Linked DNA regions of Homo sapiens: region 2 is linked to region 1. The links come from fine-mapping of genetic effects on gene expression. A gene starts in region 1. The other region holds a variant in brackets. All regions are shown on one strand. Distances are between the middles of the regions.

Region 1 (5,379 bases):
GGGGAATGGAGCTGGCCTTGTGGCAGCGCCTCCTAGGCCTCCACTCTCAGTTCCAGGAGGCTCAGTTGAGCTGTGTGGCCTGTGGCCTATGAGAGTATACCCCTAGGTAGAGCCATTCCCCTACAATTAGCCCAATGGTATCACCTCAGATGAGGTAAAAAAAAAAAATTTTTAATAGAAATACTAAGTTATGGTACAGTTGTGTAGAGCCGAAAAAGCAACTCCCCTGAAAGGGGACATTTTTCTGGGGCTGGGGATTTGCTGCAAGGTCAGCACCAACAGAGCAAGCCTGGGATTTGAAGGTTGCAACGAGGAGGGTGAGGGCAAGGGACCTGCAGGTGCAGCCGTAGGAGCCCTGGTGGAGGCAGGCATTGTGAAACTGATCCAGATGAGATAATGAGAGGGAAACTCACTGGGGCCAGGATGGTTTCCTCAGCCCCTGCCAGGCTTGAGTTGGTGGTGGCCCCTCCTTGCTGTCCTTCCATTAGGAGCCTCTGCCTTTGTTCATCTACCTGTTCTACCAGTCATACCCTGTAAGGAGCATGCCCTGGGGAAGCTGCAGATAGAGCTACCATTTGTCCTCCCTTCTGAGGACCAGGCCGTGACTCTGACTGACCGACTTTTCCCTGGGATTTGAGTAGGACCCACTGAATTCAGTGCTATAAGGGCCCAGAGGTCTGTTGACCCAGGAGGGAACTTCCTTTGTAGTGATGTCATCTCAGCCTCGGTTTTAATATATGTAAAATGAAAATAACAGTAACTCCTACATGTGTCATGAGAATCAAATGAGGCAATGCATGGCAAATTTGTGCAAACTACCAAGGAAGGACGCCCAGGGTCCCAGCAACCAGCAGCAGCTAAAGCAAGGGCGGGCAAACTCCTCCCACCAGCCAAATCTCTGAGCTAAGAGTGGTCTTGACATTTTTAAGTGGTTAGTGGTGGGGGAAATACCCAAAATAGTATGATTACGTGACAGATGAAAAGTTTGCGAAGTTCAGATTTCGGTGTCCTTAACGTTTTACTGGAATACAGCCATCTTGGTTCCACTGGTTGGCTTGACTCCCTGGGGGTTGGGGAAGTGAAACTTGAAAAGACAGATGAGCTGGCAAGAGTCTGGGTGAGAATTCCCAGACTTGAGTGTAGGTTTGGGAAACCCTTCAAAAGCACCAGCCCAAGAGCCTGGGGGTGGGGAGGAGGCCACACTTGTCAGAGTTCCGAAGGACTGACTTTGAATTTGCCCAAGAGGAGCCCCAGGTCTGGCCCAGGGTGGAGCCAGAGGCTGCCCACTTACAAATTTGGGGATTTTTCAGGCCAGTGGCCCCTTATTGCAGTGGTGCGTGACTCAGTTTTATTAGGTACTTGAATAAGTACTTTCAGTTTTATCAGGAATGCATTTGCTTTAAGGTATTCGAGAGAAAAAAATAAACTTAACTTGCCTATCCATTACTTCAAAGTTTAAAAAATGGGATGACTGAAAGACAATAGTTAAACTAGTGCTTATGAGTACAACAAATCTCAAAGGCAGCACATGAATGACTGAAGTTTGGGAATTCTGGAGTCTGCCCTTTGACCTCCCTGTATGAGGGAAGGGGTGAAAGAGAAATGTCACCAGTCTATTTGTAGGATGAGAGAGAACTGCATCCATTTGACCTTTGATGAGAGAATCGCCCCAGTGTTCCTAGAGGATGGGTGTGACCTGCCCCAGTCTGTCCTGGGATGAAAAAGAACTTTTTCCAGTCTGCCTGGAAGCTAAGAGAACTGCACCCCTCCCACTTCTTCCAGGAGCACTAAGTGTCAGGAATGCAGTGTCTGGAGATTTTGGCCACTCCCTAAATGCAGCCGCTCCCCAAATGCGCTGCCTCATCTTCAAAGTGCAGGGACAGCAGCTCTGAGATGAGGCCACAGGGCTCCAGGCATGTTCCTGGTCCTCACTGCAGTTTATGGGGGATCGGCTGGACACAAGTACAAGGCAGAGGACAGTTAGGGGCACAGGGGTCCCACTGAAGGCCAGCCCCATGCAGAGGATGCTCTGGGGTCCTCTGTCCCTCCCCCGTGGCTGGGGTGGGGAATTGCAGTGCTAGGACCACTGGCCCTTGGCAGGTCACACAAGAAGCTTTGCTCGTCTACACCCCAGTGTGGCCTTCACACTGCAAAGAAGGCTGTTGCCCCCACCCCAAAGGCCTGGGCATTAGGATCCTTTTTCATTTTTGTATTAATGTACAATGTACATACAGTATATTGCATCTAGTGTTCAGTTCTGACTTGAGAGACACACACAGCCAGGTAACCAAGATCACGTCAAAAAATCTTTCTTTAAAGTCCCACAAGTGACTCTAACGTGCTGCCAGGGTTGGAAGCCAACCCACGGAGTCTTGTCTCCTGCTTGTGGGTGGAGGGGAGCTTCCGAAGGAGGCCAGCGAAGAACCCTCCAAAGCGGGGAGGACCCAGCATCCGGCCCCTCGCCCCTGGCGTGCAAACGGGTCAGACCGTTAGGCACAGCCTCCTTGTGGGGCGCAGGGACAGGAAGCAGGGTTTAGAGCACCTCGAGGGGGAAGGAGTGGCAAGTGCGGAGGGCAGCCCCTCCCAGGACTAGAACCCACTTCCTACTTTACACCAGCACTGGAGGAGGCTGGTGGGGCAGGGCGGGGGCGGTGGGGCCTCCCCTAGCCTTCCCTCCCCCTCTCCTTCACTGTCCTTCCAGCAGGCACAGGAAGGTGAGGCAAGGTGTTTCCAGCCGGCAGGATGGAGGACGAGGAAGGCCCTGAGTATGGCAAACCTGACTTTGTGCTTTTGGACCAAGTGACCATGGAGGACTTCATGAGGAACCTGCAGCTCAGGTAGGCCCAGGGCAGGAGGCAGTGGCTCCCCTCCTCCAGGGTCTCCCACCTTGCGTCCTCGCAGAGACCTGAGGGAAAGAGGAAGGCACGCTGCTGTCCAAGGGAGGGGGCAGTGGCACACACCCACCCAGACCAGATGGGGCTGAAATGAGTGCCTCAAAGCACGGCCCCAGGGGACAGGAACAGACAAGGAGGCAACTGTCCCTGTCAGGGCTGGCAAGTCAGCACCGGAGCTGCCCACCACCTCAACCCACCCCTGCCTCCCACACAGTCCAGGCATCTTCTGCCCCTTCTTTCCTGCCCGACGGGGCCAGGGCATGACACTTCTTGGACAGATACATACCAGGCACTATCTTTCCAGGAGGGACCAGGGGCACCTCCCTCCAGCCACTTCCCAGCCAGTTGTTGATGCTCCCTCGATGCATCTCATCCATGGGGCCTGGCCTGAGCCCTGGGGACACTGAGATGAAGCAGTCAGGCTCCACCCTAGGGTCCAAACATTCCCACCAAGTTGAGGTGACATTCTCCTGGGGTACATGGAGTATCACAGGACACAGTTGGTAGAAGTGATATTGGAGCCCAATTTACCATCAAGGAGGGCAGGTGGAGGGCAGGGAGAAGCCCGGGAGGTAGGGGCATGGCACAGTAGGGTGGCCATACAGGCAGCTGGGCTTCCTGCCAGGACTCCCAGGGAGGGGCAGAAGGCCACTCGCTGTGTACTCCGGAAGCTCCCTGGGGAGAGCTTGGGGACCAGGATCCCCACTAAGCACCGAAGGCAAGAGACCACGAGCCTGGCTCAAAGAGGAGGGCTAGCCAGGACGTGAGCTAAGCACTTTGTGCACATTGTTCTACCTCATTCTTATAAAATGAGCTTATGAAACATTGTCCTCTCTATTTTGATGAGGAGAACACTGAGCCCTGGAGACGTGGGTGACTTGTGCCCTCATCCCCAGCTTGTAGGAGGATGGGAGCTAGGCCCAGGAAAACCCATGTCAGAGGTGGTGGAGAAAGAGGAACCTCAGGACAGGCCCACCCAGGACAGGCTGCCGGGAGACAGGGCCATCCAGGGAAGGGTGGGTACCACACACCAAGGGGAGATGGGTCTGAGGGGCAGGCCTGCCAGTCCTCCTCCCAGGGGCAGAAAGGTCAAGAGAAGGGCAGACATCCACCCCCACTGGGGACCAGGTTTGTGAAGGAAAGGGTCAAGAAGTCTGAGGCTGTGCCAGGGGAGAGGCAGCAGCCACTGGCCACAGGCTGGGGGGTCGGGGGTGTAAAGACAACGACATCAACTCCCTCCCTGTCATCTGGGTGGGGCTGGGTGGGGTCCCCTTTTGTCTCTGGGTTCCCGCCCAGGCCTTGAGACAGGAAACAGCCGAGGAGGCCCCTCCTTCCCCTCCCAGCCCAGTCACTTCTCAACCCCATCTCCCCATCTGCCCTGCGGGGTTCACCCCAGGAGCCAGCCCTGACTCACGGCACCCAGTGCAGTCTTGGGCAAGTCTGTTTCCTTTGCAAAATGAGTGGTCATGTTTCCAGTGACCTTGGGATCCCTGGGGAGACCACTGTGGACCCCAAACTCTATGCCGCAATGGAGACAGTCTCTGAGTGGCTCAGCTCACCCAGGATGGCACCAGGGAGACGCAAGGTCAACACCTGCCCCCTTCTTCCTTCTCCACTCTCAGCCCGTCAGGGTGGGAGCGCTGGCCTACTGGGGCCAGGCCCTGATATGGGCTCTGGCGAAAGGCCTGTGGGTGCCTGTAAGCCTGTGAGTGCTGAGGCCTACCCCTGCTGTGTCCAGGTTCGAGAAGGGCCGCATCTACACCTACATCGGTGAGGTGCTGGTGTCCGTGAACCCCTACCAGGAGCTGCCCCTGTATGGGCCTGAGGCCATCGCCAGGTACCAGGGCCGTGAGCTCTATGAGCGGCCACCCCATCTCTATGCTGTGGCCAACGCCGCCTACAAGGCAATGAAGCACCGGTCCAGGGACACCTGCATCGTCATCTCAGGTACCTGTCCCTGCCGCCGGGCCCCCACCCTCGGCATCTTCATTTGTGAACATTTGGGAGGGCCATTAGAGCATCTCCTGTGCCCTGTGTCCTGATGGGGGCCCTAGGACCCCATCTTGCCAGTCTTGGGGGTGTGAGTGGGCACAGGGAGCTGGGCTAAGAGAGCGAACCTGGCTGATTCTCTCAACTCTGGTCTTTCCGGCAGGGGAGAGTGGGGCAGGGAAGACAGAAGCCAGTAAGCACATCATGCAGTACATCGCTGCTGTCACCAATCCAAGCCAGAGGGCTGAGGTGGAGAGGTGAGTGGCAATGGGCAGCTCTGGGCCTCAGCATGGCAGGCCAGGGACCTCAGTGTGGCAGGAAGGGCTGGCTCTGGGGAGTGAGAGACGGCAACTGGAGTCTAGCTCAGGTCAAGTTCAGTGGGAACTTGGGAAGTTTCCAGATAATGCCAACACACCCGGAGGTGAGACAGGGTGACCCATGCCAAGGACCTCTCCTTGGGTGGGTGAGACCTAGCCAAGGTACTGGGCCTACCAGC
Region 2 (5,379 bases), 68 kb before region 1:
CAGAGGTACAGGGCCGCCTGCACACTCACAGAGTCCTCACGTATGCACTGACTTCAACCCTTTATGAAGAGCAATTTGGAAATGTCTGTCAAATTAAAAAGTAACCTAGCCTTAGATCTAGAAACTCCACTTTTGTAATTTATCCTATAGGTACAGTAAAACATACATAACAGTTGAAAATAAATTAAATATGTATTAATAAATCACTGGTTAAATAGAATATGACACAGCTATCTAATGGAATATCATGCAACCATTAAAATGGACGAGGCAGTTTTATGTGTGCTAATGTGAACACTCGGCGATAAATCAAGATACACTGTTCAGTGTAAAAAGCAAGGTGCAAACAGTGTATACCGTGTAATCATTTGGGAAACAAATGCATGTGTAAGCTCATATATGGACAGACTGTAAAGACACAAGAAGCTGGTGTCAGCAATTCCTCCCACGGAGGGTGCACATGATTTCTTTTCACCAAGAATCTCTGTTATCATTTGAATTTTGAACCATGTACATAAATTACATATTCAATTAGATAAAAATAAATAATAGGCCGGACATGGTGGCTCACACTTGTAATCTATCACTTTGAGAAGCCGAGGCAGGAGGATCGCTTGAGCACAGGAGTTCGAGACCAGCCTGGGCAACATGGCAAGACCCCATCACCACAAAAAAATACAAAAATTAGCCAGGTGTGATGGTGCAACATGTGGTCCCAGCTACTCAGGAAGCTGAGGTGAGAGGATCACCTGAGCCCAGGGAAGTTGAAGCTGCAGTGAGTCATGACTGTGTCACTACATTCCAGCCTGGGTGACAGAGTGAGACCCTGTCTCAAAAAATAATAACAAATCTGAGAAGAGCTTCTTGGGTTTGTTATCACAAATGTGATTAATTACCCTGTCCCATTATTAAAACCACACAGCAAGCCTGCTATGAGTCCATTCATAGTCACTAGGTGAGCCCACGTGAGCCTTGCACTGCACCAAATCCTACTGGGGAAAATGTCAGCTTGTGATGGAAACTACAGAAAGAATTTTTTTTTTTTTTTAGACAGTCTTGCTCTGTCACCAGCCTGGAGTGCAGTGGCACAATCTCGGCTCACTGCAACCTTCACCTCCTGGGTTCAAGCGAATCTCCTGCCTCAGCCTCCCAAGCACCTGGGACTACAGGTGCACACCACCACATCCAGCTAATCTTTGTATTTTTAGTAGAGATGGGGTTTCACCATGTTGGCCAGGATAGTCTAGATCTCTTGACCTCGTGATCCGCCTGCCTCGGCCTCCCAGAGGAATGTTTCTACTTTATGAAGGTTTTGTGAAGATTAAATGAGAAAAATATATTTAAAATGTTAAATAGTGTTGCTGCACACAGTAAGCATTCCAAAACAGAAGCTACTATTAAATCCCTCTCAACTTGTTCATTAATGTTCATTCTAAAAACAAAATACTTCCCATAAACACCACACTGGAGTATGTGGGATTAAATGTCTCCTATCACTGGTGGATTTTATTATTGTGATTGTTTTTATTTTATGAAATGTATACAGTTTAAAAAGGCAAATAAAGTTCAAAAAATTGTAAAACAAAACAACAACAATCTCCTTTACTAACTGGGACAACCCCATCCACAAACCACTTCCAAGAGGCAGCCACACTGAAGTCTTCTGATTCTTCTAGGATCTAGAGCCATTTTTCTAAATAATGGGCTTATATTCCTATTGCTTATCAATTTAAGATATTGACTTCCAATTGTATCACCATTCCCACTTTCCCTCTCTTTTCTTACAACTTAGATAATTTTTCTTAATCATTACTTAGTTTTTACATCATTTTATTATCTACATTCTCTCACTGACATGCCAAGTAGTAGTCAAATTGCAATTTCTTTATAATTAAACTTTTATTTTAAGGTAATTGTAAATTCTCTTATTATAAGAAATGATACAGGGAGATCCATCGCTCCCTTTACCCTATTGCCCCCAGCAGTGACATCTTGCAGAACTACAGCACATCACACCAGGACATGGATGTAAACACAGCCAGAGCACCCATCACTGTGAGGACCCCTCCTGTTGCCCTTTATAGGCACACCTACTTCTCTCCACCCCTAGCAAACCCTAATCTGTTCTCCACCTCAGCAACTGTGTCATTTCAAAGATGTTACAGAAAGGAACATACAGTGTGAAACCTTTAGGAACGGCTTTTTTCACTCAACATAATTCTCTGGAGGCCCATCCAGGTTGCTGTGTAGTTTGTTCCTTTGTTGTTGCTTTAAGACAGGGTCTCACTGTCATCCAGGATGGAGCACAGTGGCATGATCATGGCTCACTGCAGCCTGGACTTCCTGGGCTCAAGCAATCCTCCAGCCTCAGCCTCCCCAGTAGGTGGGACTACAGGCAGGTGCCACCATGCCCAGCCCTTTGTATTATTGAATAGTCTTCTGTGGCATGGATGGACCTCATTTTGTTTAACCATTTATCCACCAAAGGACATGGAGTTGTTTCCAGTTTTGGGCTACTATGAATACAACTGTTTTGAATATTAGTAGGCAGGTTTTCATGTGAACATAAATTTTCATTTCCCTGGGATAAATGCCTAGGAGTGCAATTGCCAAGTTGTTCGTAGTTGCACGTGGAGATTTGAAGAAACTGCCAGACTGCTTTCTAGAGTGGCGGTACCATTTTACATCCCTACCAGCAATGAATGAGGGGTCCAGTTCCTCCACATCTTCTCCAGCATCTTGTGTTCTACTTTTTTTAAACATTCTGTTAGGTGTGTATTGGCAGCTCATTATGGTTTTAATGTGCATTTCCCTGATGGCTAATGATGCTGAGCATATTTTCATGTGCTTACTGCCATCTGTATATCCTCTTCATTGAAGTATCTCCTCCTGTCTTTTGCTTATGTCTTAATCGGATTGTTTGTTTTACTGTTGAGTTTTGAGAGTTCTTTATATACTGTAGATACCAACCCTCTGTCAGATATGTGGTTTAAAAATATCTCCTCTCAGTCTGTAGCATATGTTTTCATTGTCTTTTATAGAGCAAGAGTTTTAAATTTTGATGAAGTCCAGTTTATCAGTTTTTTCTTTTATGAATTATGCTTTAGGTATCAAGTCTCAGAACTCTGCGTAGCCCTGCATCCTGAAGATTTTCTATGTTTTATCCT[A/G]GAAGTTGTATTTTATATTTAAGCCTATGATCCATTTTGAGTTAATTTTTGTGTTTAAGTTGTGAAATTCAGGGCAAGGTTCAATTTTTGCCTACAAATGTCCAACTGCTCCAGCACCATTTGTTAAAAGGCTATCCTATCCCTTCTCCACTGAATTGCTTATGAACCTTTGTCAAGAATCAGCTGGGCATATATGTGTGGATCTGTTTCTAGTTCATTTTGCTCCCCTGATCTCTGTGTCAGTCCCTCTGCAGATACCACAGTCTTGATTGTGATAGCAGTATGATCTATCTTGAAATCAGACAGGCTGACTCTTCTCATTTTCTTCTTTTTCAAAATTATTATTAGCTATTCTACTTATTTTGCCTCTCCATTTAAATTTCAAGAATAGCTTGAAATTTAAGATCGTGCCACTGCACTTTAAGAATAGTCTTGTTTATATCTACAAAAAATTCTTGCTGAAATTTTGATAGGAATTGTAGAATTCACTTTTAATAGTTACAAGCTATTCAAATTATTTCATATTGGATGACTTGTAGTAGTAGTTTGTGCTTTTCAAGGAGTTGGTCCATTTATATCAACTTAGGGACAAGTAACATACTAATTAGGTTGAGTCTTCCAATCCATGAATTCAGTGTGTCTCTCCACTTATTCAGATCTTTGATTTCTTTCATCAGTGTTCTATAGTTTTCAGCATACAAATCTTATTCATGTTTTGTAAGATTTATACCCGTGTTTCATTTTTTAAGTGATTGTGAATGGTATTGATTTAATTTTGATATCCACATATTCATTGTTCAAAAACATATCTTGTTTGTCTGAGTTTGTTTTGTTTTGTTTTGTTTTTTTGAGGCAAAGTCTCACTCTGTCACCCAGGCTGGAGTGCAGCGGCATGATCTGGGCTCACTGCAAGCTCCGCCTCCCGGGTTCATGCTGTTCTCCTGCCTCAGCCTCCCGAGTAGCTGGGACTACAGGCACCCGCCACCACGTCCGGCTAATTTTTTGTATTTTTAGTAGAGACAGTGTTTCACCATGTTAGCCAGGATGGTCTTGATCTCCTGACCTTGTGATCCACCTGCCTCGGCCTCCCAAAGTGCTGGGATTACAGGCGTGAGCCACCGCACCCAGCCCCATTTGTCTGAGTTTTTAATCAAGAATGGGTGCTGAATTTTGTCAAATAAACTTTCTGCCACTGATTGATATAATTATGTGATTTTTCTTCTTTAGCTTGTTAATATGATGGATTACATTTTTTTAAGCGGTGATTTTTCTTTTATTTCTGCAAACATATGGTATTATTAAGCAATTCATCTAACTTCCCATTTATGGAAATCAATACAAAAGTTCCAAGGTGATTCAAGTTCCCATGCACAATAGCAGGGCCTGAATGGAAACCAGGCGCTGATTTTTCAACTGAAACTGCACAAACTACTCTAAAGAAATTGCTCTATCAGCTGTCACTTCTAGCTGCACCTAGCAGCTATAACGATAGTGGAGCAAGTGTTCAACATATATTTGTTGAATAAGTTAATGTCAGATAGAAAGAAAAGGCTAGACATATGTAAAGGTATCTGATAAGATACAAATATTGATACAGCAAGAACACAAAGACAGGCCACAAATAATTTCACCAATTTCTATTATACCTTCAGAACAGCACTATCCAAACTAGTTTTGTAAAACCAAGAGGCTTTTCTAGTCATCTTGGGGATCGGTTAGAGTTTAGTTATGAAATCTTCAAAACAAAATTTTAATAACTTTTGAATTAAAAATCATATTATAGGGTATACTTAAGAGGTCTAAGGAAGGAAGGAAGGAAAATAAGAATCACTGTAACAATCACAAAGTATTATGGTTCTAGGAAAATTTGGAAATAATTATATTCTCCATAGTAATTTGCCATATGAGGTCACTAATGTCTCTTCCCTACCTCTAGAAAATGGTAATTCTCTCCATAAACTAGTAAAAAATGTTTGGTGGTTCTGTGATATAGTCTAATTCTACTGAACATAAAAAGACAGCCCAGTCAAATTGGGCTAAATCTTGAGGACCAGAAGTGTAGTTTATGCTGTAAGGAAGTCAAGAGTCAAGATGGGGAACTTACAGCAATTGGGGTTTCCCTCCTTTGAATCTCATCCTGGAGATGCCTCAGAAGCAAGTGGGCTATAGATGGAACTCAGAACGTAATATAAAAACTACAGCTGGGCCAGAC

What was found. PIP is the estimated chance that this variant, and not a neighbour inherited with it, causes the effect.
Region 2: its variant is the best candidate, but not a certain one, in a credible set for the expression of MYO1G in whole blood (TOPMed, PIP 0.57).

The regions. Positions count from the first base shown.
Region 1 is chr7:44,976,325-44,981,703 of GRCh38, reverse strand. MYO1G (myosin IG) reads left to right here and starts at 2,689. Exons shown (of 22, transcript NM_033054.3): 1 at 2,689-2,837; 2 at 4,633-4,841; 3 at 5,047-5,140. The coding sequence starts at 2,743. RefSeq lists enhancers at 950-1,079, 2,307-2,356, 2,387-2,456 and a silencer at 2,657-2,746.
Region 2 is chr7:45,044,428-45,049,806 of GRCh38, reverse strand. All of the region lies in intron 2 of CCM2 (CCM2 scaffold protein), which reads right to left. Among named protein-coding and RNA genes, the nearest start is that of NACAD, 42 kb to the left of the region's middle. The variant A/G (reference allele first, on the strand shown) is at 3,168.